Homo sapiens: one gene and its partner. The protein of the gene in region 1 purifies or fractionates together with the protein of each later gene. This does not show direct contact. Each region holds a gene or a part of one and is shown on either strand. Other genes may lie near its edges.

Region 1 (3,813 bases):
ACTCCTGGGCTCAAGCAGTCCTCTCACTTTGGCCCGCCAAAGTGCTAGGCTCACAGGCATGAGCCACTGCACCTGGCCTTAAGGACAAGCGAGCCGGTCTCCCCTCCCTGCCGTCTGCTCTGCTGTGCTTCACTGTGTTCCAGAGCCTGTGGCCACACGGTCCGAATGGTTGTCAGTACTGCTACCAAAGGACAAAGCGGGTCAGAGGGGAGGACTCCCTTGGAGGACCGTGTCAGAGCCGCCTTGCTGTCTGGCTTTGCCGTGGTTCCCGGCCCTCTGGGCCGCAGTCGGGGATGTGGACCAGCTGGTGGGATGCCACGGGGGAGCAGAGCGAGCCACCCCTTCCTTCTGGGGCCTGGCAGCCTGGGGGTGAGGCAACTCTGAGCGTGTGAGACGTGCCGTTGCCTGCCAGGGAGCCAGCGGCTGGCCTTTTGTCCAGTCTTACTAAGCTGCCCGTCCCTTAAGTAAATTCATTGCCACATAGGGAACATTTGTCAAGGGGGCAGTTTGGTCACCCTGATGTGTGTGTAACGGGCCAGTCACTGACCAGGTGGGAAGCCACTATGCTTCATACCATTTGTTTAGTTTTTTTTTTTTTTTTGAAATGGAGTCTCGCTCTGCCGCCCAGGCTGGAGTGCAGTGGCGTGATCTCAGCTCACCGCAAGCTCTGCCTCCCGGGTTCACGCCATTCTCCTGCCTCAGCTTCCTGAGTAGCTGGGACTACAGGTGCCCACCACCACGCCCGGCTAATTTTTTGTGTTTTTAGTAGAGACGAGGTTTCACCGTGTTGGCCAGGATGGTCTCGATCTCCTGACCTCATGATCCGCCTGTCTCGGCCTCCCAAAGTGCTGGGAATGCAGGCGTGAGCCACCGCGCCCGGCCTTTTTTAATTTTTTTAAGACAAGGTCTCGCTTTGTCGTCCAGGCTAGAGTGCAGTGGCACGATCTTGGATCACTGCAACCTCTGTCTCCAGGGTTCAAGGGATTCTCCTGCCTCAGGCTCCAAAGTAGCTGGGACTACAGCCGCCCACCACCATGCCCAGCTAATTTTTGTATTTTTAGTAGAGATGGGATTTTGCCATGTTGGCCAGGCTGGTCTCTTTAACTCCTGACCTCAGGTGATTCACCCGCCTCAACCTCCCAGAATGCTGAGATTACAGGCGGGAGCCACCGCACCCGGCCTAAGAGCTATACAAAGTTTAAAAGTTGTATTTCCATATACGAAGCCGTCACAGGGTTTCTCCATTTAGTAAAGGCCTGGTGAGAGAAGATGCACTTGGTGCTGTCGTTTTCCCGGGCTCTGTTGAGGGGAAGTGACGCGACAGCATAGTTTCCAACGTCGGATCTAAGCACCGACCCTTCTCTTGCAGCGCTTCAAGTCCTCGGTATACAGACGGTACAATGACTTCGTGGTCTTCCAGGAGATGCTCCTGCACAAGTTCCCCTACCGTATGGTGCCTGCCCTGCCACCCAAGAGAATGCTGGGAGGTAAAGCCAGGCGTGCTGCCCACCGGGGGCGGAGGGAGCGAGCCCATCTCCTGGACCCTGTGGTCCTGGCTCAGGGATGGACCCCACTGTAGACCGGGGCAGGTGCAGGGCTGCGGGGGAAACTCCAGCCTTTTGGCATCTGGGACAGAGCTGTGGCTTGAGCCCAGCCTTGGTGCAGGCAGGGAGACTGGCACCCGGCAGCCTTGGCCCACCAGAGCCTTCAGCTGCATGACTGACAGGTGGGGAAGCCCTTGCTGTGCAGGTGTGAAAGAGAACCCTAGTTCTCCTCTCCAGAGTGCAGTGGCCAGGGCTCCCGAGAGCTCCCGAGAGGGCTGCCAGGAGCACTGTGTGCTCACCTGGCTGGCATTGCCCTGCCTGCATCTGCAAAGCCATGGCAGCCTGAGCCATGGGCACCATGGGAGCGCTCGGTGGCCTCATGGAAGAGAACTGAGTTGTGCAAGTAGGAAATGTCAGCTGCATCTTGCAGGAGAGAAAAAGCAGCACACGGCTGCCTCACCTTCACCTCTCTGCCTGAAGATGGCCTCGGGCCAGGTGGGAGATCGCAGACGACCTCAGAGCTGCTCCCCAGGCCTGTGTCCCCCTGGGCTGCAGAGCTTGGGATGGCGGCTGCCAGCTCTGATCTCACTGGTGGTCTCTCCCTCAGCCCGTTCCTCAAATTCTGAATAAAACATGCTGGGGAAATGAGTGCTTAGAGCTGATCATGGCTTTCTGCCGTTCCCAGCCCTTCCACAGTCACCGTGTCCTGGACGGGGACGCAGCATGGGAGCTAACACAGTCGCCAGTTCCCCGCATCTGAAATCGTACGATGATGCATAAATGCTTCTGCCTCTCATCGGTCACTGAGCAAGCAGCCCAGGGTCTGATGATGTGATTTTCACCCCGCCGCATGTGAAGGCCACAGAGCAGATCATTCAGCTCACGCTGAAGGGCACACGGGCGCTCAGGGCAGCAGAGAGCAGAGGACGCGACAGGGATGTGTGATGCTGGCTCAGGCCTGGGCATCCGAGTTGATGAGCGCTGGCTGGCGTTCAGCGCCTGGAAACTGCACACGCGCGCTGGGCCGCTTGCGCATTTAAGGAAGTGCAGCCTCATCGGAAGAGGCCTGCCAGTGCTGAGCCAGGAGGGAGCCCCAGCCACCTACCTGTATTGTTTGTTTTCTTTCTTTTATGGTGTTTTTTTTTTTTTTTTACATGGAGTCTCGCTCTGTCGCCCAGGCTGGAGTGCAGTGGTGCAATCTCGGCTCATGGCAAGCTCCGCCTCCCGGGTTCACGCCATTCTCCTGCCTCAGCCTCCCGCGTAGCTGGGACTACAGGCGCCCGCCACCACGCCTGGCTAATTTTTTTGTATTTTTAGTAGAGACGGGGTTTCACCGTGTTAGCCAGGATGGTCTCAATCTCCTGACCTCGTGATCCGCGCACCTCAGCCTCCCAAAGTGCTGGGATTACAGGTGTGAGCCACCGCACCTGGCCTCTTTTATGGTGTTTTTTGTTTTTGTTTTTGTTTTTGAGACGAAGACTCGCCGTGTCACCCAGGCTGGAGTGCAGTGGTGCGGTCTCGGCTCACTGCAAGCTCCGCCTGCCGGGTTCACGCCATTCTCCTGCCTGAGTCTCCCAAGTAGCTGGGACTACAGGCGCCCGCCACCACGCCTGGCTAATTATTTTTTTTTGTATTTTTAGTGGAGATGGGGTTTCACCGTGTTAGGATGGTCTCAATCTCCTGACCTCATGATCCACCTGCCTCAGCCTCCCAAAGTGCTGGGATTACAGGTGTGAGCCACTGCGCCTGGCCTCTTTTATGGTATTTTTCAGAGACAGGGTTTCGCTACGCTGGCCAGGCTGATGTAGAACTCCTTGGCCTCAAGTGATCTGCCCTCCTCAGCCTCCCAAGAGGCTGGGATTACAGGTGTGAGCCACACTCCTGGCTGTATTTCTTAATACATTAAAAATAGTATTTAAAGGCTGGGCGCTGGTGGCTCATGCCTGTAATCCCAGCACTTTGGGAGGCTGAGGTGGGCGGATCACCTGAGGTCAGGAGTTCGAGACCAGCATGACCAACATGGTGAAACCTCCTCTCTAATAAAAGTATAAACATTAGCCAGGTGTGGTGGCGGGTGCCTGTAATCCCAGCTACTTGGGAGGCTGAGGCAGGAGAATCGCTTGAACCTGGGAGTTAGAGGTTGCAGTGAGCCGAGATGACACCACTGCACTCCAGCCTGGGCGACAAGAGTGAAACTCCGTCTCAAAAAAAGTATTTAAATACCATTTTTGTTTGTGTTCAGATTGAAATGTCCTGAATGCATCAGTAT
Region 2 (3,813 bases), on another chromosome or scaffold:
CTTTGGGAGGCTGAGGCAGGTGGATCACCTTAGCCCAGGAGTTTGAGACCAGCCTGGGCAACATGGTGAAACCCCGTCTCCACCCAAAAAGTTACAAAAATTAGCTGGGCCTGGTGGCATGCGCCTGTGGTCCCAGCTACTCGGGAGGCCGAGGTGGGAGGATTGCTTGAGCCTGAGAAGTGGAGCTTACAGTGAGCTGAGATCGCACCACTGCACTCCAGCCTGGGTGGCAGAGTGAGACCCCATCTCAATAAATAAATAAACAAATAATATTCTTTCTTTTGGCACTTGTATTTCCTTGCTTCATGTGATATTTAATTAAATCATATAGAATATTAAGTACATTTCATACGAAGAAGTAGAGCATTCTAGAGAGAGTCACCTGTTCACAGAGTGTCATCGTACTCTGGGCATCAGGCAGTATGATTTTCAAAGGGAATAAGGGGCATCAAGCTAGTGAAGTGAAGGTTGGTTAAAAGCTTCCTTTGTAGTTATATTTAGAATAGTATTCTTGTGGGAAACTGTATTTAGTAGCATGCTCCTATAGTGTTTGGGGAGTGAGATAGGCACTTCATGTTTACATTCAATGAAGATTAGTGAATTCATCTTTCCATATTTGTTATTATTCTGAATTATCTCCTTTTGGGGAATTTTATAGGGAAGATATTTTACTCTAATTAAAAATGTTGTCTGACTGGTCCTTTCAGGTTATGAACTGACTGGTTTAGCCAGAGGTGGGGAACAGTTGGCTAAATTAAAGAGGAATTATGCCAAAGCAGTGGAACTACTGGTGGAACTAGCTTCTCTGCAGGTAAGTAGCAAAAGACCTGGAGAACTCCTGTAGTTTGATTTGTAACAGTCAAGTGGAGGAGAGTCAGGTCTTGAGTCAGCATATACTGTGCTTTGTACTTTTAACTGTTCCCATGATCCTATGTAAAGCAAACATAATATTTTGATTTCTGAAGTGATGGCTTTTGTACCATTGTCCCTACTTTTTAAAATTTATGTATTTTTTATTTTTTTGAGATGGAGTTTTACTCTTGTTGCCCAGGCTGGAGTGCAATGGCGCGACCTCGGCTCACTGCAACCTCTGCCTCCTGGGTTCAAGTGATTCTTCTGCCTCAGCCTCCCAAGTAGCTGATTACAGACATGTGCCACCATGCCTGGCTAACTTTTGTATTTTTTGTAGAGACAGGGTTTTGCCATGTTTGTCAGGCTGGTCTCGAACTCCTGACTTCAGGTGATCCACCCGCCTCGGCCTCCCAAAGTGCTAGGATTACAGGCATGAGCCACTGCACCTGGCCCCTACTTTTAATTTAAAAATTTATTTATTTTTCGAAATGGGGTCTCACTGTGTCACCCAGGCTGGAGTGCAGTGGCATAATCCCAGCTCACTGCAACCTTAACCTCCTGGGCTTAAGTGATCCGCCCACCTCAGCCTCCTGAGTAGCTGGGACTATAGGCATGCCCCATCACACCTAGCTAATTTTTGTATTTTTTGTAGAGGTGGGGTTTCACCATGTCGTCCAGGCTGGTCTCGAACTCCTGGGCTCAAGTAATCAGCCCGCCTCATCCTTCCAAAGTGCTGGGATTATAGGTATGAGCCACCACACCCGGCCCCTGCTTCTTCTTGTTAACAAAATGTATGTGCTATGGTACACTCTTGTTTTTTTTGTTTGTTTGTTTGTTTTTTTCTTTGAGACAGAATCTTGCTCTGTTGCCCAGGCTGGAGTGCAGTGTTGCGATCTTGGCTAACTGCAGCCTGGATCTCCTGGGCTCAAGCAGTCTCCCGCCTCAGCCTCCCAAGTAGCTTGGACTACAAGTTTGTGCCACCTCGCCTGGATAATATTTTTGAATTTTTTAGTTGAGATGAGGTCTTGCTACGTTGCCCAGGCTGGTCTCAAACTCCTGGCCTCAAGAAATCCTGCCATCTCAGCCTCCCAAAGTGCTGGAATTATAAGTGTGAGCCACCTCACCCAGCCCAGTTTCACTCTTTGCTAAGTAAGAATAGCAAGTTGATACTAGATTTAAATGTAAATGTAAATAAACATCGTTTGTGCATGGAAGACCATTTTTTCCCCTATGTGGCCAGTTAGTATATATCTAGGTTATTAATGCTTGATTCTTTCTTGTCATTTTTATGTTGTTATTTAGGTGAGACTATAGTAAACAAATTATAATAGTGTCAACTCAAGTAAAGCCTGTTGAAGCAGAAATGATTTGATAAAGGTTTATTGAAAGCCAAATGTGAGGATTGACCCGGGAAGACACCAACAAAGTTGGGTGTGTTCTAGAGTCTGCTACAAGTTGGAAGGCTTTTATGGGAAAGTTTAGGAGAAGGGAGGACTCCTCATACCCAAGTTGTCCTTTTCATTGGCGAGTACAATACAGAGGTCACAATCATTGGCTACAGATTACAAATACAAGCTAAAATGTTCTACATGCAAGTAAATCATGAAGTAAAACTTCATGAATCAGAAACAAATCAGTGTCATTTTCAGCGTCAGTAGGTTGCATATTAATCAGTATGTCAGCAGTCTGAGAAACTTAAGATTTCCTTACTCAGGGACAGGATGTAAACCATGAATCATAAGATCCCTCAATCTGCCCAGGCAGGTTAATTTGGAAACCTACCAAATGTGACATGTAGGTTATCAATAGCATGGAAATAGTGTTAGCCCTATGGAAATCTCACAAGAATTTTGTTTTTGTTTTGTTATGAAGAGACAGGGTCTTACTCTGTCACCCAAGCTGGAGTACAGTGGCACAGTAATAGCTCACTGCAGCCTCAAACGATCCTCCCATCACAGATTACCAAGCAGCTGGGACTACAGGTGCATGCTACTACACCCAGCTAATTTTTAAAATTTATTTCTTGTAGAGGCAAGGTCTCATTGTGTTGCCCAGGCTGGTCTTGAACTCCCAACTTCAAGTGATTCTCCCACCTCAGCCTCCCAAAGTATTGGGGTTATAGGCGTGAGCCATGCGCCCAGCCTAAGAATTTTGTTTTTTAAGCATGCCAAAAAGAAGTTGTCTTGGTTCTCAAATGTTTTCTACAAGTGCAGTCTTAGTGGAGTCAAGTGATCAGGGAATGATTAGGAAGACTTTGTGCTTACATTATTAATTTGTTCTTATTTTAGACTTCTTTTGTTACTTTGGATGAAGCTATTAAGATAACCAACAGGCGTGTAAATGCCATTGAACATGGTGAGTATTAGGTACTGTGAGGTGCTTTGTCACTTGTCCATACCCTCCACTTGTCGTGAAACTGCTAGAATTCAGGGACTGTACTGAAGACTGAAAGATGAATAAGATGCTTCCCTTGCCCACAGTGCAAAGAGAGAAGTGTGTCCATAGTAAAAAAAAAAAGTGTTATGAAGTGTTCTGATAGAAGTACTTGTATGATCTGGGGGAGTTACACACATAGGAAAGTGGTGACTTAAAAATTATGGAATGTTTTCTTCATTTCCAGTTATTCATGCAGTTATTTAAGGGTAGGAATATTTCTCAAGATCCTTAGTGTTTTCTGTAGTTCTTTCTAATGGTTGAGTGATGCAACTTTTTGAGTACATTAAATATTTAACTTTAAATCAGTATAAGCCATTCTCCTTGATTTCTAAAAAATTTCCCATTTGATGCACTTATTTTCCATCTCTTTTATTTCACTATTTAAAAAATATGACTGCTTAGTGTTGATGGTACTTTTTGCTCAATAAACTTAGTTTTTATTAAAGAAACACTCAATTTTAGGTAAGAAAGCAAAATTTGAAGTAAAGAAATTCCTTTGCTTGGGAATTTCTATATTAATGCTAG

Evidence for each region.
Region 2: the proteins of SNX8 (region 1) and ATP6V1D fractionate together in Homo sapiens (co-fractionation; one large-scale study listed by BioGRID). This does not show direct contact.

Annotation. Positions count from the first base shown.
Region 1 is NC_000007.14:2,272,786-2,276,598, reverse strand, and holds part of SNX8 (sorting nexin-8), read left to right. Parts: intron 1-1,369; coding exon 1,370-1,487; intron 1,488-3,813. UniProt on the Homo sapiens protein: May be involved in several stages of intracellular trafficking. May play a role in intracellular protein transport from early endosomes to the trans-Golgi network.
Region 2 is NC_000014.9:67,342,766-67,346,578, reverse strand, and holds part of ATP6V1D (V-type proton ATPase subunit D), read left to right. Parts: intron 1-707; coding exon 708-811; intron 812-3,140; coding exon 3,141-3,207; intron 3,208-3,813. UniProt on the Homo sapiens protein: Subunit of the V1 complex of vacuolar(H+)-ATPase (V-ATPase), a multisubunit enzyme composed of a peripheral complex (V1) that hydrolyzes ATP and a membrane integral complex (V0) that translocates protons.